Linked DNA regions of Homo sapiens: regions 1, 3, 4, 5 and 6 are each linked to region 2. Evidence: fine-mapped expression QTL. A gene starts in region 2. Each other region holds a variant in brackets. All regions are shown on one strand. Distances are from middle to middle.

Region 1 (4,089 bases), 120 kb before region 2:
GGCTATTTCTCAGGAACCATATCTACTTCTGAGTCTTTAAATGCTGAAGAGGGAGAGGATCTCTAGGTCATCAGGACCTCAGATGGGGTTTGTTAGTATTATTTGATACAATGATTATCACAATGGAAATTTCTTACGTCTTCAACACTTCACAATTTATTATTTATTTTTACTTATTTATTTGTTTATTTATTTTTGAGATAGAGTCTTGCTCTGTGGCCCAAGCTAGAGTGCCGTAGCCTGATCCTGGCTCACTGCAGCCTTGAACTCCTGGGCTCAAACAGATCCTCCCACCTCAGCCTCCCAAGTATCTGAGGCTATAGGTACACACCACCATGCCCTGCTAATTTTAAATTTTTTTTTTGTAGAAACAGGGTTTCTAAACATACAAAAATTAGCATGTTTCCCATGCTAATTTCAAACTCCTGGGCTCAAGTGATCTCCTGCTTTGGCCTCCCAAGTGCTGGGATTACAGGTATGAACCACCACGCCTGGCCTACTTGACAATTTCAAACCCTTTCAATTTTATTGTCACATATTATCGTGTGTACTTCTTATCTGTATGTCTGGGGAGACATATTTTTAAATCTTATAAAAATCAGATGACCTTGGCAAAATGTGGTGGCTCACAATTTTGGGAGGCCGAAGCTTGAGCCCAGGAGTTCAAGACCAGTCTGGGCACCATAGGGAGAACTCATCTCTATTTAAAAAAAGAAAAAGAAAAACGTGGGTGTGGTGGTATGCTCCTATAGTCCCAGCTGCTCAGGGAGCTGAGGCGAGATGATAGATTGAGCCCAGGACTTTGAGGCTGCAGTGAGCTATGATCGTGCCACTGTACTCTAGCCTGTGCGACAGAGTGAGACCCTGTCTCAAAAAGAAAAAAAAAATAGGCTTTGTGACTTGTCTGAAAGCCATATTTTTAGAATTAAGTACCATGTTGCATGTACTCGACACATTTATTGCATACCGACTATATGCTAGGCACTGTAGAAGGCACTGGAGATACAGAGATGGAAAATTATGATCCTTCTCATATTCAGTGCATCGATACAAAGTGATGAGGACTCTATTAAAGGTGTCATTAACAGCTCTGGGAGCAATAAGCAAGAGGGCTTGATAATGCCTGGAGAGATATGAGGGAGGTGTTAGACCAAGGTGATGGTAATGTGGATGAAGATGGGGATGGTGGTGATCTCATCAGCAATATACAGTGCTTACCAAGTGCCAGGCACTGTTCTGGGTGTTTGCACATATTAACTCACTTGATCCTCACAACCACCCTATGAGATAGGGGCTCTTAATATTTCCATTTTACAGATGAGGAAAAATGAGGCATGCAGAGAGTAGGTAAATTGCTCAAGATTGCACCAGCAAGTGGTAGACATTGTCTACTATTTCTTGAATTTCTGAAACTCAAGAGCAAAACAGCAATGATAATATTGGCAAAGAATGGGGTCATCTGCTGCCACCAAAACCCACTTTCCCTGGCCCCCTTTCTGAGGTGCAGCCCATTTATTTCTTGAGCCAATCCTTGAGTTTGGCAGGGCCCTTCCTGTCCACACGATGAACCTGGTTTGTGGCACTGGCCCCATGTATCCAAACGGTCCACC[A/G]TGGACAGAGGGTCATGGTTAAGATCTGGGATTTCAAATCAGACAAACATGGGCTGGACTTCTGGTTCTGTCCATTCTCAGCTATATGATCTCTGAGCCTTAGCTTTACCATCTGTAAAATAGAGATAACAGCCATGTCTGTGCCTCTGTGGCCTTTCATGTCAGCAGCTTTTTGCCCACCCCACACCCCTCACACAAGACGAGGCCCTTGAACTAAACAGACACTGAAAGGAAGGCAGCCTGGAGGCCTGTGGAGCTCCCTGGCATGATTGGAGCCATTGTTCTGTCGCTGGGGAGGGCCTTCTGGAAGAGAGGGCAGAGGGCTGCAGCACCTTTGGTAGACATCTGCCTCAGAGATTTCTTCTGCCTTGCTGTTTGGAGACATAAGCTTTTCCTTCAGAGGGTGAAGTAAGTGGAGATGAAAGAAGCTACTTCATGGAAACAACAGTTGTGACTGGCAGGAGGGCTGGCAAGAGGCCTGGAAGTAGGCTCAGCCCAGGGTTGTGTCCCTGGGGTGCACCTCAGAGAACTTGGGCCAACAGCATGCTCTCTGTTTATTCAGGAGTTTCCTCACTGAACCCTCTGAGGAAACAGCTTTGTAAGGAAAGGGAAAACATATGGGTGAGACAAGGTACTCAGTGGCCCAATGGAGCCCAAGTGGCTGCCTACAAATTGGCTCCTACCTTGATACCGAGGGGGAGAGGATCCCTCCGGTTCCTGCCCTGCATGGGCTCAGGGCCAGTTGTATAGTGCCAGGCCCTTGTGAGTGGCTGGCCTATGGCCACTGCCTTCTGGGAGACCTGGTACCTTTAGGGAGGTCCATTTACTCTTCCAGGCCTTTCAGGCCCCTTCAGTCGTTTCTGAGAGGCATTAACTTGCCTGTTTGTAACAGAAATATCCATCTCTTCACTCACTTTGCTCCACCTCTTCTTCATCCTTGGTGGGAAGAGGTTTTAAAAGCATAAAAATATACCAAAATTATGCTGTGAAATGTTATAATATGAGCAGGCGAGACGTTTGTTTTTCTAATGAGGGCTTTACTTGGAAAAAAGAATTGGCTGGGCGTGGTGGCTTACACCTGTAATCCCAGCACTTTGGGAGGCCGAGGTGGGTGGATCGCCTGAGATCAGGAGTTTGAGACCAGCCTGGCCAACGTCGTAAAACCCCGTTTCTACTAAAAATACAAAAATTAGCCGGGCATGATGGAGAGTGCCTGTAATCTCAGCTCAGGAGGCTGAGGCAGGAGAATTGCTTGAACCCCGGAGGCAGAGATTGCAGTGAGCTGAGATCACGCCACTGCACTCCAGCTTGGGTGACAAGGCAAGACTTCGTCTCAAAAAAAAAAAAAAAAAATTTTATGCCACTTTCCCAGAACAAAGGGCAGACTTCAGGGACCTCATGGCTGTGAGGTCTTGGTGATGCTGGTGATGAGGTCGGTAGGCATGAACAAGGCTGAGGGTGAAAGGAGGGAGGGAGACTAAGGAAGCAAGACTTGCTCATATTCAGAGTTTGACCCCATATGGACTGCAGTAAGTCCATCCTTACTGGAAGTCCATACTTAATGGAAATTATTTTACCATCCTCTGGGCACTCAGCTACCTGTGATCAGCTACAGGAAACATTGGGTCCTTTCGGGAATTGGACTGTGGTGTCTAGGGGAGGATGGAACAACACGGTCTCTCTTGATTCAACAGCCCTGGTGTCTCCCACATGTCAGCAGCATGCTTCATGCGAGAAGAGACCAAGGAGCTGAGTGCCTCACGCTCTTGCTGAGGAGACAGTGTCCACAGTAACAGTCGCAGCGATTGAAGGGCGATAGAAGTGAGAGCCTCCCGTGGGGGTGGTCAAGAGAGGCTTTATAGAGAGGCAGGTCTTCCCCTGGCCTCAAAGAATGGCAGGACAGAAATGGAATGGGATGTAGTGCCCGGCCAGGGAGAGGATCTCCAGGGACACAGCTGCCTAGAGCTGGTTTTAAGTGTGGCTGTAGCAAGGTCTCTGAGGGAGAGCTTAACTCTGCCTTGAGATCCTTCTTTCACCATGGACTACTGGCCCTTGATCAATCAGTGCACACGACTGGACCCAGGACTCAAGGCTAAACTGAAGGGCCTGGGCCAGCCCGGGTTTTAGGGCCCAGGAGATTCTCTGGACTCTGGGCTTCTTGGCATCCTGTTATAGAAGCACCATTTATACATTTATATTGAAAAATAAGCGCGACGGAGGGAGATCTGATGCCCTCAACAAAGCTCAGAAAGACTTTTCTGGTTGAAGAAATAAGCATTGCACACACCACAAGTGCAAAGCCTTCTGCCCAGACCCTTTGCTGGAGAGCTGTGCCGAGCAGAGGGCAGGTGGTTGTGGTGCAGGCTGGGCTGCAATTGGCTGGGCTCAGCATGCAGCAGTGTTCCGAGAGTGTGGGTTCTGCTGGTGCCCAGATGGCTTCAGGGTGCCTGATAAACTTCTCTAGCTCTGATTTTCAGGT
Region 2 (4,089 bases):
ATATTTAAATTTAATATTATTTAGAATTTCAATTTGAGCACAATCTGTGTTTGGGATAAAGTAAATAACTCTGGCCATTCATACATCATCCACTAAACACATCTTGGGAAGACAGGAATCAATGGTCCACAGAATTACTCTTAGAAGCAAGGGGTGATATTCAGAATAGTTAACAGCTGGTGTGACATGGGGATATCCAAGCAGAGGGAGCCCTTGCTGCATCAGGGCTTAAGGGCTTAAACTTTCATTTGCCAGGTTGTGAGGAAGTTGCTTAGTCCTAGGAAAATGGGCAGGGCAGGGATGGTTGCCTGTGAGGAACTAAGGGCAGCAGCTTTTATCAACCAATTCAGAATATTTCAGTAACCATTACAGCCAAATCACCAGCTCCTGGCTGAGTACACTCTGCAGTGAGGTTCATTATACTATGCCTATAATAGTCTGGACCCCATCTCTCTGGAATAGTACATATTTTACACGAAGGGAAAAGGCTAACTTGCAACTTATTTGCATGAAAAATCACGTTGCAAGTACTTCTTAGTTTACTAGATTGTCTCCAATAGTTTCTCAACCTTATCAAGATATATTTGTTAAAACTGTGTGCTCTCCAAAATCATCTACTGAATTTAAACCACTGCACCCCACTTTGGACTATAATTGACTGGAGTTACTGATTGGAAAGGAAGTGGTACACACCCCTAATATACTGACGGACTTACTCTGACAGCTGCTACCACCTGTGGGGACCCTTGATGATGTTCACGCAGCTTTTCTGAGTGGCACATGCTGTTCTCTTGAATACTCCTTGAGGTGAAGAAGAGGCCACCCCTACCCCTATGCACACACAGCTCCTGCTCTTTCCTGGGGCTGCACCCTGCTTGTATTTCCAATGCAGGGATGTCAGATTCCAAAGAGGGCTCCCCAAGGCATTCCAGAAGGCTTCAGGCCAGCACGTCCCAACCTTTTCATGCCATGGGACCCCTTTGGCAGGCTGCTGAAAACCATGGGGTTCTTCTCAGAATAAGGGTTTTAAATACATAAAAGAAACCACAAGAGGTTACAAAAAAAGCCAATAATATTGAAATGTAGCTAACAAAATGTTTTTAAAAATTTGTGCTAGAGCAATATATATGCTTCATTATTGACATATAATATCTGGCTGATTGTCTAATAACTACTGTTATTTGAGATACTTGCAACAACTGTGATGTGATGTAAAAACCTATGGTTTCTAGTGATTACTAAGTCATAAATACTTATCCTACTGCTACTGTAGTTTGTTGTCTACGTTCATAATGGCAAAACGTGCTAAATGTCAGAGGTTGGTGAAAATTAAGACGTAAATTTTTTCTCATCCAAGTTCACAGTACTCTTGAATTAATTACCTCTCCTCGGGTTAAGAACCCCTGCAGGATAAGGTTGCCCCTAGGGCCAACACCTCACTGGAGCCCCGCCTCATGTCCTGGAGGCAGGAGCCTTCATGCCACCTACACAGAACTCGGAGCTGTCTCTTGGCCCAGCAGTTCTCCCCACAACTAGTTCTGAAAGTCCGGGGCTAGGAAAGAACGGCATCGTCGCCTGAGCTCCTGGCGCCACTTTAAACAACCCATCCTTGACTTGCGTGACTTCTTCCACAAGCTCTCCTGGTCACCTGGGCAAAATCCTAGGTGATCTGGGGACAAGGCGGAACTTCGGTTTTCTGATCTGCAAAAAGAAACACCTACCTCATAGGACTGTTAGGATGAATTGAGGTAATGGCTGGGTTGTGTACATTATACAGCACTATCAAGGTGTGCGCTGTGATCATTTTTGAGGGTTGTTAGGTGTTTGAGGACCCAGAACAGTCTACACAGCTGTAGTCCCCAAGTGTTGGGCACGCCTTAAGCGCTCCATAAACACCTGTAGAAATGAATGAATGACGTATGCATCTGCACGTGGGCCCACATCTGCAAGAACAGGCTGCTCAGGCCATGAGGCCCGGTGCATCACCTGCACTTCTCTTTATAACGGGTAGTAAAGTCTCCCTCGCTCTGTGCTACTCGGCAACCACAATTCTGTCCACAGAGGGCGGCGCAGTGGGGCTGCTTCGCCGCGAGCTCGCCTCCGGGGCTCCCACGTCGTGGCTTCCGGGCAGGTACCGGGCAGCTGGAGACGCCAGAGCCGGCGGGTAAGGTGCGGGCGGTGCGCCGGGCCGCGGGCGCGCAAGGAGGGGCGAGAGGGTGGGGAGGGGCGGGGCCGGCGTCCTCGTCACTTGATAAAACGCCTGCGAGTCTCCAGAGAACAACGGGCTCATTCAGCGGTCGCGAGCTGCCCGCGAGGGGGAGCGGCCGGACGGAGAGCGCGACCCGTCCCGGGGGTGGGGCCGGGCGCAGCGGCGAGAGGAGGCGAAGGTGGCTGCGGTAGCAGCAGCGCGGCAGCCTCGGACCCAGCCCGGAGCGCAGGGCGGCCGCTGCAGGTCCCCGCTCCCCTCCCCGTGCGTCCGCCCATGGCCGCCGCCGGGCAGCTGTGCTTGCTCTACCTGTCGGCGGGGCTCCTGTCCCGGCTCGGCGCAGCCTTCAACTTGGACACTCGGGAGGACAACGTGATCCGGAAATATGGAGACCCCGGGAGCCTCTTCGGCTTCTCGCTGGCCATGCACTGGCAACTGCAGCCCGAGGACAAGCGGCTGTGAGTTCCCAGACCCTTCCCACCCCCACTGGGGCGCCGGCCTGCGCGCGAGTTGAGGCGAGGGCGCGCCCTGTTCCCGCCGGCCCCGGGGAGTAGTTGGCCCGTGGGTCGCGCCCGGGCCGGCCGAGGCGCACCCAGCGCCCAGCGCGCTCGGCTCCCCGCCCTGACCCGCCCCGCGCGGCGCCTCCCTCCATTCAGCTCGGGAAGGAGGAGAACCCGAGGGCTAGGCTGGGCCCCGGGAGAGTTTACTTTTTTTTCTGTTTTAAACAAAGTGCTTTCCGCCGGTTCTTCCCTCCGGGCGTGTTTGCTGGGACCCCGGCAGGTGGCACGCTTTGCTGAGCTTCACGTGTGTGTTTGGGGCTGGGGTGGCGTTCAGGGTCACCGCAGCGCTGCTGTGGGTTTGCAGGGAGCGTAGTTCCAGGATGGTCTAGGCCTTTCCCAAACTCACGGTGCACCCCGTCTCCCCCGCAGACTGGCGCGCCCCGCACAAGTTGGAAAGCCACTTTCCATGTGTCCTGCATGACTTTCTCAGCAAGGCGGGGGCGCTCCTTAGGAGATACTTTTACATGCCTTTGAAAAAAAAAAAAAAAAAGATGGGGGTGGGGGCGGGAATTAACCAAACACCTGTTCGCTGGACTAGATCAGCTGAGAAAACAAGTCTGAGTGATGTGCCCAGCCCCCAAAGTACTCGGCCGCACCCGAGACCCGCTCGGCTCCTGCGTTGGGCGGGCACAGCCAAGGGGTTAAAGCAAAATGTCCGATCTGAGCCTGGACTTTGCAAACAAGGTTTGTAAGGGACAACCCCCCACCGTAGCGGTAAACCTCCCAGGAGAAAGAGGAGACCGGCACTACTGGCCTCTCCTTTTATTTCTTAAACAGTGTTTGGTTCCCACATGATCGGCTATTTAAGCCGGAGAGGGTATTTTGGCGCTTAGTCGCCTTAATCGCTATGGGGTTGCATTCTTCATCTGTGCTACTGAAAAATAGGCTGTAGCAACAAAAGGTCTCCCCTCCCCACCCAGGCCTTGAGTTGAACTAAGGACCTTCCAGGACCAACAGACCGGAGAAAGCAAAGTGCAGCCACAGTGAAGAGATTTTGTGTTTAGGAGAGGCGAATGGGATTTTAGAACTGGAGGAAACCTCTTGATTTCAGCGGTTAACAACTTTGGAATTCGTGAATGTTGCAGCCCCTGAATTTTAGTCAGTTTTTTTTTTTTTCTGATAACACCTGCTAGGTGAAGCACAGAAATTAGCTGGGGGTGGGGAGGCTCTAGGAGGGTGGTCTGAGGCTATATGCCTGGCCAGCTGCTTATACTCTGCTTTCTCTCAGAAATAATTGTTGTTAAGCTGTAAATCTGAAATGAAAGGTTCCTGTTAACTCAGTTAATAGATGACGTTTATTGTCTCGGAATACTTGGTGTGTAG
Region 3 (4,089 bases), 120 kb after region 2:
TTGCACCTCTGAAAGGATTAACAAAATAAAATAAGTATTTGGTTATTCTGCCCCTCCTTAGTTGGTTTACCCAATGAGCTTCTCCCTTGTAAACCAAAAATAAAATTCGGCTGGGGCAGTGGCTCAGGCCTGTAATCCCACCACTTTGGGAGGCGAGGTGGGCAAATCATCTGAGGTCAGTAGTTCAAGACCAGCCTGACCAACAGGGTGAAACCCCATCTCTACTAAAATTACAAAAATTAGCCAGGTGTGGTGGCACATACTTGTAATCACAGCTACTCGGGAGGCTGAGGTTGGAGAATCACTTCAACCCAAGAGGCGGAGGTTGCAGTGAGCTGAGATCATGCCACTACACGTCAGCCTGGGCAACAGAGTGAGACTCTGTCTCAAAAAATATATATATTCTAAACCCTCCAACCAACTGAATGGACCCCTCCTTTTGGCCAAGAGCATTCCAAAGTTAACCTGAGAAACTAGTTCAGGCCATGATGGGAAGGCGGGGTCAGACATGTCTCATTATTCTGTCCTCCCTTCTGGAATTTAGGTACAGCTGACCAGCATTAACATTAACATAGAGATTTTACATCTGACAAAACAGACTGTTTGTAGCCTAAGATACCAACATGACAAGGAGCAGGTTCTGCAAGAAACTAAAGATTTTATCCCAAAATATATTTCTTGACATATTTTGAAATGGCCCTGCAAAGCTGTCTCTTGTGGGGAAAATCTACATTCTACAGAGAATCCTCTTCCCTTTCCAAGTACTTTCCCTGATTCAGAAGGGAATTAACTAACTCTGGCACCTTTTTAAAGTCTGATAAGAAACAGTTACAAGGTTGGGCACAGTGGCTCACGTCTGTAATCCCAGAACTTTGGGAGGCCGAGGACTCCCAAACTCTGTAAAATATTTGAAGAGATTTATTCCGAGCCAAATATGAGTGACCATGGCCCCGTGACACAGCTCTCAGGAGGTCCTCAGAACATGTGCCCAAGGTGATTGGGGCACAGTTTGGTTTTATACATTTTAGGGAGGCATGAGACATCAATCAAATACATTTAAGAAATACATTGGTTTAGTCCTGAAAGGTAGGACAATTCAAAGTTGGGGCTTCCAGGCTATAGGTAAATTTAAACATTTTCTGATTTACAATTGGTTGAGTTTATCTAAAGACCTGAGATCACAGAAAGGAAATGTTCAGGTTAAGATAAAGGATTGTGGAGACCAAGGTTCTTTTGAAGTTTTATTGTGGCTGCCCTCAGAGACAACAGATGACAAACGTTTCCTATTCAGATCTTTAAAAGGTGCTAGACTTTAAGTTAATCTTTTTAGGATTGGGAGGGCCTGGAAGTAAAAGATCTAGCTATGTTAATAGAGATTCTTTACTGATGCAAATTTTCCCCCACAAAAGACAGATTTGCAGGGCCATTTCAAGATATGGCAAAAAAACATGTTTTGGGATAAAATATTTTGCTTTTCTTCCTTGTCATGTAATGTTATTCCAGAGTCAGGGTGAAAAGTAAGTCTCGATATATAGGGTTAAATAAAACCCATCTGATGAGAATTTATGGTTTGTAGGGCATGACTCCCCAGAACTCTTAGATAGGAATTTGGGCAAGATAAAAAAATCAGAATTTACTCCTCAGTAGCAACACATGACAGATAGCAGGTCCTGAAATAAACTGAAGTGTTTTACTACAAAACATATTTTTTTGACATATTTTGAACTAGCCCTGCAAAGCTATTTCTTCTGGGGAAAATCTATATTCTGTAGAGGATCCCCTTCCCTTTCCAGGTTTTTCCTTTTAAGGTCTGACACCTTTTTAGGTCTGATAAGAGACATTTACTATCTGTTCTCTCTGAAGCCTGCTATGTGGGACCTTTATCTGTGTAATAAGAATCTTGGTCTCCACAACCCCTTGTCTTAATCCAGACACTCCTTTCAATTGATCCTAGGTCTTGAGATAGTAACTTAACTCTTTCAACCAATTGCCAGTCAGAAAATCTTTGACTCTCCCTATAACCTGGAAGCCCCCTCCTGCCACAAGTTTCCCAATCCCCCTATATTA[C/T]GTCTTAAAGTTGTCCTGCCTTTTCAGACCAAAGCAGTGTACGCTTTACATGTACTGAGTGATGTCTGCCTGCAACTTCTGTTCCCCTAAAACTGTACACAATCAAGCTATGACCCGACCACCTTGGGCACATGTTTTCAGGACCTCTTGGGACTGTGCCTCAGGCCTTGGTCACTCACATTTGGCTCGGAATAAATCTCTTAAAATATTTTACAGAGTTTGAGTCTTTTTTTTAAATCAACAGTTCAAATAAATTTTTAAAACTTTTAATGTGCCCAAATTTATCTTTTAACATTACCAGTCTCAGTTTGTGAAAGTCTAGAGTTCTCCCTGTCCATGTCTGTAAATTCTTGAGGCTCATAGTCTCATTTATAGTACCCCCCACCCCACCACCACTCAGACTCTTTGTGTGCAAAGTCTATCTCCATTGCCACAAACTCTCATAAAAAAAATTCATCCTTTCCTCCAATTTTCACAAAAGCACAACACATAAAAGCTTCAGTATCCAATAATCTCTCTTTTTTTGCAAACTTTACTGAAGGTTTGGGTTATAAGGAGTGCTCACATTGTGAACAGTCTTTGCAATCTTCTGCCTCCTCCCCTTCCCCTTTGCTCTACAAAGTGAATTCCTCTCCTTGCTTCCTGTAAAGCTGTTCTGAGCCTTCCCTACAGATCTCTCCTTCCACTCCATCAGCATTTCAAAGCACTTACTCCAGATAAAAACTATGTTTGTGCTAAATAAATCCTGGTGAATAGGATGCCCTCATATCACTACACAAGTAATTACCTGAATCAAAGTACCCTTTAAAGAAAGAAGGCAAATGTATATGGAGAAAAATTATGCTTCAGTGGAATATTACGTATTGTTTAGAGCACAACTTTTCAGGGTATCTGATTCCAATTCACTGTCTTTGAGCTATTTTACAACTCTGTAAATTGCAGATAAATGGTAACAACGCACATAATTCTTACCTATACATGTGCAAATAAATTCTGTCAGGTAGAAGGGCAACCCTCCCTGATTCCCAAGGAAAGAGCCAGTTTTACAGCCTTTGCAAATTTTTCTGAATTCCTGTTTTTTCACTTCTCCTTTGAACTGGCTATAATATCTTTACTGGTTCCCTCATTTAATTAATGTATTAAATAAAATTTTTGACACATGTTCATTTTATAGCTGCATGAGAGTCATTATTTTACCTTTTTTGAAAATTATCTTTCCAGCATATCAAAAAGGGTTCTAGGGCAGGAAATGATAGCACACTCAAAAGGGAAATTGATTAATTAATTAATGAAGGGACTATTTACAGGAGTGTGGGCAGAATTAAACCTCCAGGGCTGGTGAGCACCCAATCAGCAACAGAGAAAAATTAGTACTATCTCTATGGATACTGGACAAGGGTAGGAAGCTATGGCCACACTTAGAGGAACACAAATTATAGCTTGGAAGAAAAGAAGCAGGGGGAAAAAATATGACTTTTCTTTCCTTTTGTCTTCTGAACCTCATGAAGCCAGAGGGTACTGGGGACAAGGTGACACAGTCTAGCTTGTTTTGTATTGCTTTTTCCATTCCTTTCAGTCACATCAGTCCAACATGGATCACAAATTCTCAGTGAATTTACAGGGGCTGGCTCATGTCTGCTATGTAAAAATTTTTTTATAGAAGCTTACAGTATGATTACACTTTATATCTACATGTGTGTCTTAGTCTGTTAGTGGTGCTGTAACAAAATACAGTCTGGATAATTTATAAATGACAGAAATTAGTTTTCTTACAGTTCTAGAGGCTGTGAAGTTCAAGATCAAGATGCCGGAACTCAGTGTCTCATAAGGGCTTTCTTGCTGTGTCCTCATGTAACCATCCAATAGGTTTTTCTTGCCTGCTGACCAGATAGAGCCAATTTATCAAGACAAAGAGTTTAGTGCATGTGGAGCTGGCTAAACAGAAGATGAGTTTTATTACTACTCAAATTAACCTCCTGAAAATTCAGAGGCTAGGGTTTTTTTATAGTTTGGCAGACAGCA
Region 4 (4,089 bases), 25 kb before region 2:
GAGACACCTTATTATGGTGCTTTTTTGCTGGCCTAAACTTTTTGTACCAGTAATTCTTTAACAAATCAGAACCAAATGCATTCTGTGAATGCTATCTAGCTCTCTCTTCCTATATTTCCATTTATGAGTGTTCAGTGTATGTAGGGTCTGGCCATTTAGGAAAGTCAGTTTTGGGCCAGAGTGCCTGTCACTTGAAACCATTATTTTAGTGATTGAAAGTTTTCTTCAATTAATCAGGACCTTTTGGGGTTCAAGTGACAGAATCCAACTCAAATTAGCTTAAGTAAAAGTGGGAATTAGCTCAAATACCAGAAAAGTCCAGGATGGATAGCTGCTCCAGGAGTCGAAATGATGTAATCAAGCTTCACCTCCCACCACTGGTGAAGATGGTTTCAAGCATTCTGGGGCTCACATGCAACCTGCTTAGCAACTCCCACTGAGGAAGAGCTTCTTCACATTAAGTCCACCAGGAAAGTCCTGGGAGAGGACTAAATCATATGCTCACGTGTGAACCCATCACTGGAACTAGAGGTAATGGGCCACCTTGAACAGGCCCAAGTCCTATTCCCACACCTGTGGCAGAGGAGAGGTAAGGGTTAGCTCCAGCTGAACTGTAGGGCCTGAGCCCCTCAAGAGAAAGGAGGTCTCCCTTACAGAAGAATAGGGTGGGTTCTGGGCAGGCAGAAACTACAAATGCCTTACATTTCTTGTTTGTTTTTGGAGACAGGGTCTTGCTCTGTCACCCAGGCTGGAGTGCAGCGGCATGATCTCGGCTCACTGAAACCTCCGCCTCCTGGGTTCCAGTGATTCTTGTACCTCAGCTGGGACTACAGGCACATGCCACCATGCCTGCCTAATATTTTTTATGTTTGGTAGAGACAGGGTTTCACCATGTTAGCCAGGCTGGTCTCGAACTCCTGACCTCAAGTGATCCACCTGCCTCGGCCTCCCAAAGTACTGGGATTACAGGCATGAGCCACTGCGCCCAGCTGCCTCCTACTTTCTTACATCAGACATTGTATTTGTTACATTTGCTTATTTTCCATTTAATTTTCATTTTTGCATTTTGTCTTATTAATGTATGTTCACTTAAGCCACTAAGTAGATTTATAATTAGAGCAGTTTTATAGTTTGACCTTAATCTTTTTTTCTCTGGGGGAAATTTTTTCAGGGCTGTTCTTTTATGTTTCCCTCTGTATTGATCTGCTTTTCTTGATTTGCCAGTCTCTCCCTTTTCATCCTTGGCTCAGTGGTTGATCTTCATTATCCAGGGTGGATCCTGGGCTTCTAGTTATTAACAGCAGTATCACGTGTGTGCTGTGTGCATACAGGCATGCATGGGTGGATGCGTGTGTGTGTGTTGTTTTGAATCTTGACCATCTTCAAATGTCACTTCTAATGACTTGAGTGAGCTGCCTTGTTCCACAAGGCCTGCTTCTGAGAACCCCCAGGTGCATGTGGTCTGGGTGCTCACTGGGGGTGTTTAGGGAAGGAATGCTGATTCTCTGTTCTCACACCACCAAGCATTTGCATTTACTGTTATCTCTCTCTAAAATGCCCTTGCCTGGTCTATTTCTACTTGTCCTTCAAGTGGCT[A/G]ATCAGGCCTCACTTCCTCCAGGAAGCTCCTGGGCCATCCAGTCTGGGCTGGGAGAGGGTTTTTTCCTAATAAGACAGTGCAGCCATTTATAGAGTCAATTGTTTACTGCTGGAGTCATTTCCGATGGTGAGTTAAAGATCTTGAGTATTACCTATGGTTAGAGCCCCTCCTCTGAGTTCCACTGCATCCCATATATATCCCTATTTGCTCATTATCATGCTGTTTGGCATGCACCTGTTTGTTTATCTTGCTCTCCTAGTAACAGGTGAGCCCCTTGAAAATAGGGACTTTATTCCTAGTATCAGAGCTTAATAAGCCTAGGATAAATGTTTGGGGAGTAACCCACCGCCTCCACTCAGAGCCTCTTACTCTGCTGCAGTCCCTGCTGTTCCCAGCACACATCCATTACTGCATCATTGCTATTTGTTTGTGTGTCTCATTTTCCCCATTGCATTGTAAAGTTCCTTGTGCTAACCAAGTGGTCTTTATTCATTTCTGTTATCTGGCCCATAGTACAATGCCTGGCATATATAGAAGGTGCTAAATCAGTGTAGAAAAAATATTTTTAAACGTATGTCTCTTTAACTACTCAGAGTGGCAGATTATTATATACCTTTTTGTTTGTATCTTCTGGAGTGCTTGGCTTGTTTAATGTGACTTTTGTCAACACTTGGTTTAGATATTCCTTAAACGTCCTCGGGTACCAGACTGTTTAGTTGCACAACTAGACTTCTGTTACTCTTCATATTAGGAGGAGAATAAACTCAGAGACAATGAGCACAATCTGGGCATTTTGTCGGTCCCACAGTCCTATCATATCCTGGGATATGTCTTTATTAGGCACCTTGTGGAGAGTGCCCAAGCCTTTCAGTGAGCTGGGATTCTCAGACCTCAGACGGGTAATACAAGGGAATGGGGCTGGATTTGGGATCCATCAATGAGGGCAGTGGTAGGTCTGCATCAAGTCCACACTTGTAGGTGGAGAATCCAGAAGCGAGAAGAAGCCAGAGGGAGCCCTGAAAGGGGGTACTGGAAAGACTCCCAGAGACAATGGGATGCAGCAAGGGCCTTGTCGCTGCACACTCACGATTGAGTCTATGGGTGGAGAGGGATTGTCTGGGGCCATGAGTGAGCTCTGAAGTAAACAGAAGGAAGCTGGCTCTTGGCTACATGCAGTGGCAAGCCAGGGGGCCACCACAGACACGCCATGTGTGTCAGAGGATATGGATGGAGTAGGCGGAATACCCAAGACAAATGTACCCTGAACTGGTCTCAGCCAGGCTGTCTTTGGGGCCCAGGGTGGAGGCCATGCATGTAGAGACAGGCTGCAAGATAGGGGTTGTTGCTCTCTTCTGTGTTCTGAGCAGCCTGGATTCTGACAACAGTGCTCCTCCTCATCCTAGAAGGAGGCAAAGCCAGCTCAAATAAATCTGATGAATAATGTGTCAGCTGCCATTCAGATAAAAGAGCACAGACCAAGCCTGGCTATCCAGTCAGTAATTCACATTCACTGGGTGGCAGTGGGCTCACAACCTGTGCTGGACAAACTGAGGAAGATCGGGACAAAATGCTAGAGAAGAGAAAATGGGAAAGCTCGCATCTACTTTTTTATAATTGCAAGTGAGTAAGATTTCTGAGTATGGAGAAAACAGACTTGAACCACTTTCCTCTCGGAAGGAGACACTTTCTTTCCCAGCCAGTTTACGTCAGAGTAGAAGATGAGGCTTTGATAAAACAATGTCTTTATTTCCTATGTACATTTCTTTGTTCTGAAAAGAGCACTAATGTGTTTTCATGTTGGGTTCAAAGAAGAGATTGTCCTGGAAAAGTCACAGCTCCTTTGGAAGGGCAACCAGGATGTAAAATCATTTCTACTAAATCTTCACCCCGCCAAGCTGAGAATTGAATTTCCTGAACCAGAGTGAACTCTGTGGCTCAGGTGGTTTTTAATTAAAGCAATTTATATTCAAAGAATGTGCACACTTGCAGGCTCACACAAAATCAATGAAGTCAAGAGGGGAAGCAGAAAAAACTGTAATTGAGAAGCACTTATGTGGCAGGGCAAAAAAATTTTTTTTTAATTTAATTTTTGTTTAAAATATGTGTATACATGGCCTACTATCAGCCAAAATTCAAAATGTATTGCATGCTATTTACTATTTTCCCCCTTTCCAGCTCTACTCCTACAAAATAAGGCTAGGTTTCATCCTAGATTAGGCACTACTACTTATTTTTTCACGTTTTAACAAGTATAGAGTTTGAATGTCTAGAACCCATGGAATAATTTGCTGCCACTTTCTTTCAAGCAACTCAATGGGAATGAGTTATTAATCAGTGTCCCCTGATGCAAGCTCCACCGTTTTGTCATTTTCATGAAGTTTGCTGGCATATAAATATAACCCCCACATTCTTTTATGAAATACATAAATGCAATAAAATAGTTGCTTTGGTTCTTTTCTGGAGGCAGAAGGAGAAAAATGTCAAACTCTCAT
Region 5 (4,078 bases), 42 kb after region 2:
CTGACCCCACGTCAGAAAGCAAGGAAGATCAGTGGATGGGGGTCACCGTCCAGAGCCAAGGTCCAGGGGGCAAGGTCGTGGTAAGTGTAGAGACACATGTTCATCCTATACTGTTGGACTGCTGGTTATGTGCCAGCACCAGGCTTACAGCAGGGGACAGCAGGGAGCATACATTCTAGCGAACTTACTGCTTTAAAGCAGGAATGGATGTCAAAAAGAAATCAGACTGGGCGTGGTGGCTCATGCCTGTAATCTCAATACTTTGTGAGGCCAAGGCGGGCGGATCACCTGAGGTCAGGGGTTTGAGACCAGCCTGACCAATATGATGAAACCCCATCTCTACTAAAAATACAAAAATTAGCTGGGCGTAGTGGCATGCGCCTGTAATCCCAGCTACTTGGGAGACTGAGACAGGAGAATCGCTTGAACCTGGGAGGTGGAGGTTGCAAGAGCAAAACTCCATCTCAAAAAAAAGAAAAAAAAAGAAGAAGTAATCACGTAATCAAAGCCTTATTTCTCCTGTGATTCCTGATATACTTAGAAGCAATCACACAACCTACTTTTCTTTAGAACTTTCAGATTTAAATAACTTATTAAAGAACCTTTACTAAATATTCCTACAACTCTAGATGGTATTAAAAACAAAACAAAACTAGACATCATTTCTGTCCTTGGAATTTTATAGCTTTATAGATAAGTTAGTAAAAATATGGGCATGGTCTTAGAAAGTAATAACCAGGTAGTTTTAACCTCTTGTTATTTATTCTGAGTTTTTTCAAATAGAAGGGATAGCAAAGAAAAGAGGGTTTGTTAGGTGGATTGGGCTAGATGGTCATGGTAAGGCCTTCCTGGTTGGAATATGATCTTTTTGTCTCCTTCAAAATCTGGTTGCTGTAACGAAATTTATACAGAATTTTGAGAAAAAAAATTTAGTGAACATTGAGTTTTGATATTTAAGGAATGACATTTATGGAAAATTGATTTGATACTGTATTTTTAGGCTGTGTTTACATGGAGGTTAGCCATTCATACCCTGTAGAAATTATAGAGATTATTTCTGTCTCTTCTGGCCTTGTAATTCTCTCTGCCTTTTAAAAGTAGGCATATTTTGGGAAATAATCTCAGAGCTCAGGGTGTAAGTTAGGACTGATTACAAGGAAATAGTGTGGGGAAAAGGAAATGTCTTTGTTTTAGCTGTGTTTGTTTGATCCCTATGAAAACAGGTCCATGATTTCTCTCCTCTAGAACATAATTACCCACTTTCACACTGATGTTCTGAAGGTTTATACAGCCACTAAAAGCCAATTTGAATTAAGAAAATGAAATAAGGTGTTTCTCTTTGTTTATGTGACAGGTAAATTTACAAATAAATTGCCTATGGATACAGATTGTCATTCAATTTTGGATTGGAGGATTATTCTGAGTGAGAATAAGGCACATTCTAGTTTCTATATGTCTTCATAATGGTCTCCTTAGTGCCACTTTGGGGAATATTTGCTGGTCTGGGATCCGGTCCCAAGATGAGGACATGCTTAATCATCCTCTTTAGAATTAACCTCTGTATTGACCATTTTATTCATATGTAATTTTTTAAAAACAAGGTTTATAGACAAGAATGGGCTACTTTCTTC[C/A]ATCTGCTTGCAGACATGTGCTCACCGATATGAAAAAAGGCAGCATGTTAATACGAAGCAGGAATCCCGAGACATCTTTGGGCGGTGTTATGTCCTGAGTCAGAATCTCAGGATTGAAGACGATATGGATGGGGGAGATTGGAGCTTTTGTGATGGGCGATTGAGAGGCCATGAGAAATTTGGCTCTTGCCAGCAAGGTGTAGCAGCTACTTTTACTAAAGACTTTCATTACATTGTATTTGGAGCCCCGGGTACTTATAACTGGAAAGGTATGACCTTTGTATTTATAGAAATAGAGATTAGTTCCCCTAATTTCTGTAATATGATTTAGTACATTTTGAGCTAAAATGTGTTAGAAGACATTCGTATATTATAAAAGTTGGGTAGGATATTAAAAATCTCTAAATGATATGATTTTTAAAAGCTAATAATAGTGGAATATATGTTTTGGTGTTGACATTCTTTTCCCCTCTACCAGTACTTTACTTTAATTCAGGTAGTTAACTTTTTTTTAGCAGGAATATAATAATTAACATTAGTATTTTTTGCTGTTTTAGATTTGTGCGACTCATGAAGCTGGAAGTGTTAATTTTAAGTTAGTGATCTGAAAACTTAGGAGGATTAAATAATGGTATATACAAATAACAGTGTATTAACATGGACATTAATAACAGAGTATTAATATGGACATTTCTCTCTGTATATGTTATTTTCAAAGGCCATGCTTTGCTAATAATTCAGTAGAGTTAGAAGGGCAGATTACAGACGAATTGGGGAATTTTGAGGTATAATTTCAGATATGTGAGGAAAAGTCGTTTGATTATTGTGATGTGAGTAAATGGAGATGTAGAGAGGTAAAGAAGAAAATGGCCCACATTTTTTGACTGTGTATGTATAGAAAATGCTATATCATAAAAGACAACCTAACTCTCATCCATGATGAAGAGAACTGCATCTGATTTGGAAATAAGCCATTTTTGAGAAATGTATTAATAATAAGTCACATAACACTTTCACTCATCAGGGAAAACTTAGGAAAATGGTCCCTTTTCCATTCAACAATTTGTTTTAATTGTGGTTCTAAATGACTCTTGAACACCTTTCTCTGTGTGCAATCTTCAAGGGTAATTTCCCTTTGCCCCCACCTCCACCCCAACAGAATCTTCATGTACAGTATTTCCCAGGTTATTTTGACCTAACTGAAATAACATGTTGAATTTAGTTTTATTTTAGCATGAATAAATGCTTTATATAGTAAAACAAAACAAAAATATCCACCAATTATGTATATTTTAATTCATGGAAAATATGGTTTACCTGCTTTATAAACCTGACCTAAAATGTCGCCATTTAAAGCCATATAGTGATTTGGGCTTACTATATGAAAACTTATGTTTTAAATTACTAATTGTAAGAATTTTTAAAAGATGAAATCTTGGTTAAAGTGATCTAAAGAAAAGATCAATATGTCTCACTTTTACACTGCAAAAAAAAGACAAATTGAGGCAGGATTACAGAGAATGTAAAATATATATATCAAGTTCATGTCATTTAAAAATTGGTTCTCTGTAGATTTTGTTAACTAAGCAAACCTTCCATTTTTCATCTAGTTTCATGGCATTATAAAGATAGTTCATGAAAATGCATGGGACAGTTTTTAATGACTCAAACAAATTTCTTTCCCATAAAAATTTACACAAATGTATTTTACAACCATAAAAGTCATCTCTGTCCTTCCTTTTTTTCCTCCAAATTTTTTTTCCTGTAACTAGTGATAGCATGGGGGATGTTTATTAGGAACCATTTATTTTCTTTTGTTTCATCTTCATTTTTTTGTTGTTTTTACCATTTCATTCCTTTAGGGATTGTTCGTGTAGAGCAAAAGAATAACACTTTTTTTGACATGAACATCTTTGAAGATGGGCCTTATGAAGTTGGTGGAGAGACTGAGCATGATGAAAGTCTCGTTCCTGTTCCTGCTAACAGTTACTTAGGTAGGAGCAGGCACAGATGGCTGCCTTTGCCCACCTTCTCAGATACCTTGTGTGAAACTCCCTCGCAGGGCCTATGGCCCCTGGACTTCTAGGCTGAGAAGAGGCCAGGTGGGGCCGGGCCACTTTTGCTGGAATTTGATAAGCTTGGTGATCTAGAGGCGTTAAACCGACTGATGCCTGGGATCCTTTCCTTCTGACTGGGGCTCCCTCAAAGGGGGAAGAAACCTCTTATCACCTAAAATCATCCGTCCTCCCTCCTGCTCAGAAGTCTGTCTCTTGAGCTAATGGCAGCCTCCGTAACCTGAAACAGGCCGCTCATGCAGCCATGAAAACATGCATGGGTGTTCACAGTAAGCTGAGATCTTTGTTCAGTGCCTCCTTCCAGAGATACTCTTAAGAACTGCATTTAATAAAGTTACTCTTAAGTGGCAAGTCAAGACCTCCAGGTCCTCC
Region 6 (4,089 bases), 46 kb before region 2:
AATTGTCCCAGAGGAAATGCAAGGGTATGCATTTACCATGAGGTCCAGAGGATGGAGAGGCAAGTTCCTGAGTGATGCAGGGGAGGGGCAGACAGAACTGCAGTTTGAAGGTGGTTACCCAACACCAGGGGTCTCCAGGTGGTTCCCCAGGTGGAAGCCAAAGGATGGCTGTTCCTTTCACCAGCTGGGGAGCCGAATGGCACTACTTTCTGCCCATTCCTGGATCAAGCGCTCCCTATGGCCAGTCCCCATGATGGCATTGTCTTTGAATCCCTGGACATCCTATTTCTGGAATGTCTGCCCAGTTTCCTATGGCCTTGAGCATTTTCTTCCCTGTGTTGTAGAGAGGTAACTCAACCCAGTCATCTATTGTACTTTTCCAGCATTGTCTGTGAAGTAACAGAGATGAAACTAAGAAATGTGTGTGGCTGACATGGTGCCAGAGGGTCTCCACAGCCATGCATGCCTTTGTCCAGACTAGTGGGCATTGCTAGGCCTGAGATACTCGTGAAGGTCCTTGTATTAGTCCATTCTTATGCTGCTGTAAGGACATAACCTGAGACTGGGTAATTTATAAAGGAAAGAGTTTTAATTGACTCGAAGTTCCACACAGCTGGGGAGGCCTCAGGAAACTTACAATCATGGTTGAAGAGGAAGCAAACATGTCCTTCTTCACAAGGCGGCAGGAGAGAGAAGAATGTGAGCCAAGTGAAGGGGGAAGCCCCTTATAAAACCATCAGACCGGCCAGGCGCGGTGGCTCATGCCTGTAATCCCAGCACTTTGGGAGGCCAAGGCGGGTGGATCACGAGGTCAGGAGATCGAGACAACCCTGGCTAACACAGTGAAACCCCATCTCTACTAAAAAAAAATACAGAAAATTAGCTGGGCGTGGTGGCGGGTGCTTGTATTCCCAGCTACTCGGGAGGCTGAGGCAGGAGAATGCCATGAATGCAGGAGGTGGAGCTTGCAGTGAGCCGAGATCACGCCACTGCACTCCAGCCTGGGCAACAGAGTGAGCCTCCGTCTCAAAAAAAAATAAATAAAACCATCAGATCTCGTGAGAACTTACTCATTATCATGAGAATAGCATGGGGGAAACTGTCACCATGATTCAATTACCTCCCACCAGGTCCCTCCCACCACATGTGGGGATTATGGGAACTACAAGATGAGATTTAAATGGGGACACAGCCAAACCATGTCAGTCCTCATGGATGGGATCCCCAAGAAACAAGCCAGGGATCTGAGCTGCTGAGAATTCAGACACAGGGATGAGCCCCCTCATCCTTGTTTTAACAAGCCCTGAGTTTGTTAAAAGTCTATGAGAAGCTGCTCATTTCCAACTGCAACTTTCACATATCCACTCATCCTTAAAAAAAGAGTAGATGAAACTCAAACTCAAAGAGCTGGGCTCTTTCATGCCAAAAGTTCCCCAAACCTGTGAAACCCTTCCATGCAGCTTTCTCCACTGGCAGGACTTTGCACTTGGAGGTGATGACCCTGAGCTTGCATCATTTGTGATTTCTATTTAAAGGCAAACCCCAGACAGAGAAATATTTGCCATAAATTGTTACAGCAACATGACATATGGCTTTTCTGCCACTAAGGTCACACTGCCATCGGCCTCTCACTTCCTCCTCAATTGCTTGTTCATTCCACAAGGTTTCCTCAATTTCAGCAATTCTTGTGGTGCAGATCTGCCTGCCCAGCCATTTATCACCAGTAATAACAAGGAGAGTTGTGATGTTTTACATCTCTACACAATGATCTGAGTCTTGGAAGGCTTCCCAAACCCCCTTGCCCCTCTGCCTGGCCAGGCAGGGCCTCTTTTCCTTTCTTAGTGTGACATATCAGCAGTTTAGATGCAGGGCTCTCCCGCTGGGTAGGAGCTTGTAGGTCACAGCGACATCCAACAGATTCATTAACATAGCAAT[C/T]GCAGGAGAGAAAAGAAGCCCAGGCGATTCTGGTGAATGCTGAGCCTTGTTCTAAATTCTCATATAGAATCTCCATAGAACCAGGAAGGAGGGAGAGATCTGAGGCTCTGTTTTGCAAAAGAATTTCGGAGAGCCACCAGCTTGGAAATGAAGCTTATCAGGATGGAAAGAAAGCCACGCATTGCAAAGCCCTCCTGCAAACAAGCTCAGCTCTGGGGAGAAGGATATTAACTAAAATAACAGCACGTGGTAGTCAACAAGTTCCCTAGCTGTGCCTTCACTGAAGCAGGTGAAAGTATTTTAAAATGTTGAATGAAGTGGGGGGAGGGGAACCCAGATAAAGCCAAGAATTCCTTTACTCTCTGCCAGTGGTTCTGTGAATTATTCCGTTGGAATACTGTGCCTTCTCTCCAGCCCTGTGTTTCAGAATCAGGGGACCTTCCTGCAACCTACGGACATTTCCATAGATTTTGATGAACCTACCCTGGTGTCAGGGGTGGGCAGAAGGATGTGTTAATCAAAAACAAACTGAAAAAATGCATCTTTTGAGGAAGCAGGTCTGTGTGCCTTCATCCATCTGCATCTTGCCTGTGAGTGGCCTTCTAGACAGGCACCCATAGCTGGCTGACACAGTGGCCTATGAGTGTTTGCCTGTCAGGGATAACTCTGGGGTAGTCCACAGCCAACAGAAAGCCTCCACACTTAAGGAAGGTCTGAGCAGTGGGCCATCTTGAACTCATAACCACATTTAGGGAACAAAAGCTATGCATAGAGATTTAAGGAATTAAAAACTCAGAAAAAAAGAACAACAATGGGATTGAAATGAGAGGGGACTGCTTTTTGCTACTGTCAAAGGCATGTGAACCAGAGCAGCTCCATCTTGAATAGGAGCTGGGCAAAATGAGGCTGAGACCTACTGGGCTGAATTCCCAGACAGTTAAGACATTCTAAGTCACAGGATAAGACAGGAGGCAGCACAAGATACAGGTCATAAAGACCTTGCTGATAAAACAGGTTGCAGTAAAAAAGCTGGCTAAAACCCACCAAAACCAAGATGGCCACGAGAGTGACCTCTGGTGGTCCTCACTGCTACACTCCCACCATCACCATGACAGTTTACAAATGCCATGGCAACATCAAGAGGTTACCCTATATGGCCTAAAAAGGGGAGGCGTGAATAATCCACCCCTTGTTTAGCATAGCATCAAGAAATAACCATAAAAATAGGCGGCCTGGAGCGGTGGCTCACACCTATAATCCCAGCAGTTTGGGAGGTCGAGAAGGGGGGCGTTGATCATGAGGTCAACAGATCGAGACAATCCTGGCCAGCATGGTGAAACCCCATCTCTACTAAAAATACAAAAATTAGCCAGGTGTGGTGGCAGGTGGCCTGTAGTCCCAGCTACTGGGGAGGCTGAGGCAGGAGAATTGCTTGAACCCAGGAGGCGGAGGTTGCAGTGAGCTGAGATTGCACCACTGCACTCCAGCCTGGGCGACAGAGTGAGACTCCGTCTCAAAACAAAACAAAAATAGGCAACCAGGCTCACGCCTGTAATTCCAGCACTTTGGGAAGCCAAAGCGGGTGGATTGCCTGAGATCAGTAGTTCAAGACCAACCTGACTAACATGGTGAAACCCCATCTGTACCAAGAATACATAAATTAGCCAGGCATGGTGGGACACACCTGTAGTCCCAGCTACTGGGGAGGCTGAGGCAGGAGAATCGCTTCAACCTGGGAGGTGGAGGTTACAGTGAGCCGAGTTGGCACCACTGCACTCAGCCTGCACAACCCAGCGAGACTCCGTCTCAAAAAAAGAGAAAAAAACAGGCAACCAGCAGCCCTTGGGGCTGCTCTGTCTGTGGAGTAGTCATTCTTTTATTTCTTTACTTTCTTAATAAACTTGCTTTCACTTTACAGACTCACCCTGAATTCTTTCTTGCATGAGATCCAAGAACGCTCTCTTGGAGTTGGGATCAGGACCCCTTTCCTGTAATACTACAACTACTTTTTTGGCCACAAATTTCAGAAAACTTATATAACTGTTCTTTGGGTTTTTTTTTAAAACTTTTATTTTAGGTTCAACGGTACATGTGCAGGTTTGTCATATAGGTAAATTCATGTCATAGGAGTTTGTTGTACAGATCATTTTGTCA

Direction of the effects. Alleles are on the strand shown, and positions count from the first base shown. SD is a standard deviation of normalised expression in the study named. Not every link is listed here.
With allele C in place of T in region 3, the expression in naive CD8 T cells of the gene that starts at base 2,280 in region 2 is higher (large effect, 0.77 SD a copy in Schmiedel 2018).
With allele A in place of G in region 4, the expression in aorta of the gene that starts at base 2,280 in region 2 is higher (small effect, 0.19 SD a copy in GTEx).
For the expression in fetal neocortex of the gene that starts at base 2,280 in region 2, C is the low allele of the variant in region 6 and T is the other (small effect, 0.36 SD a copy in Walker 2019).

Evidence for each region. PIP is the estimated chance that this variant, and not a neighbour inherited with it, causes the effect.
Region 1: its variant is the best candidate, but not a certain one, in a credible set for the expression of ITGA6 in subcutaneous fat (GTEx, PIP 0.78).
Region 3: its variant is the best candidate, but not a certain one, in a credible set for the expression of ITGA6 in naive CD8 T cells (Schmiedel 2018, PIP 0.82).
Region 4: its variant is the best candidate, but not a certain one, in a credible set for the expression of ITGA6 in aorta (GTEx, PIP 0.55).
Region 5: its variant is the best candidate, but not a certain one, in a credible set for the expression of ITGA6 in whole blood (INTERVAL, PIP 0.64).
Region 6: its variant is the best candidate, but not a certain one, in a credible set for the expression of ITGA6 in fetal neocortex (Walker 2019, PIP 0.50).

Annotation. Positions count from the first base shown.
Region 1 is chr2:172,309,940-172,314,028 of GRCh38, forward strand. All of the region lies in intron 3 of LOC107985960 (a long non-coding RNA gene), which reads left to right. Among named protein-coding and RNA genes, the nearest start is that of ITGA6, 120 kb to the right of the region's middle. The variant A/G (reference allele first, on the strand shown) is at 1,611.
Region 2 is chr2:172,425,307-172,429,395 of GRCh38, forward strand. ITGA6 (integrin subunit alpha 6) reads left to right here and starts at 2,280. Exons shown (of 26, transcript NM_000210.4): 1 at 2,280-2,664. The coding sequence starts at 2,483. RefSeq lists a silencer at 2,228-2,307 and an enhancer at 3,092-3,592.
Region 3 is chr2:172,548,765-172,552,853 of GRCh38, forward strand. All of the region lies in intron 1 of PDK1-AS1 (PDK1 and ITGA6 antisense RNA 1), which reads right to left. Among named protein-coding and RNA genes, the nearest start is that of PDK1, 5.3 kb to the right of the region's middle. RefSeq lists enhancers at 67-809, 810-1,551, 4,057-4,089 and a silencer at 4,057-4,089. The variant C/T (reference allele first, on the strand shown) is at 2,068.
Region 4 is chr2:172,400,757-172,404,845 of GRCh38, forward strand. No RefSeq gene overlaps it. Among named protein-coding and RNA genes, the nearest start is that of ITGA6, 25 kb to the right of the region's middle. The variant A/G (reference allele first, on the strand shown) is at 1,597.
Region 5 is chr2:172,467,481-172,471,558 of GRCh38, forward strand. It overlaps ITGA6 (integrin subunit alpha 6), which reads left to right. Exons shown (of 26, transcript NM_000210.4): 3 at 1-80; 4 at 1,645-1,900; 5 at 3,494-3,625. The region is part of intron 3 of PDK1-AS1 (PDK1 and ITGA6 antisense RNA 1); the gene reads right to left. Among named protein-coding and RNA genes, the nearest start is that of ITGA6-AS1, 3.5 kb to the left of the region's middle. The variant C/A (reference allele first, on the strand shown) is at 1,632.
Region 6 is chr2:172,379,017-172,383,105 of GRCh38, forward strand. No RefSeq gene overlaps it. Among named protein-coding and RNA genes, the nearest start is that of ITGA6, 47 kb to the right of the region's middle. RefSeq lists enhancers at 1,523-2,032, 2,033-2,544, 2,665-2,834. The variant C/T (reference allele first, on the strand shown) is at 1,936.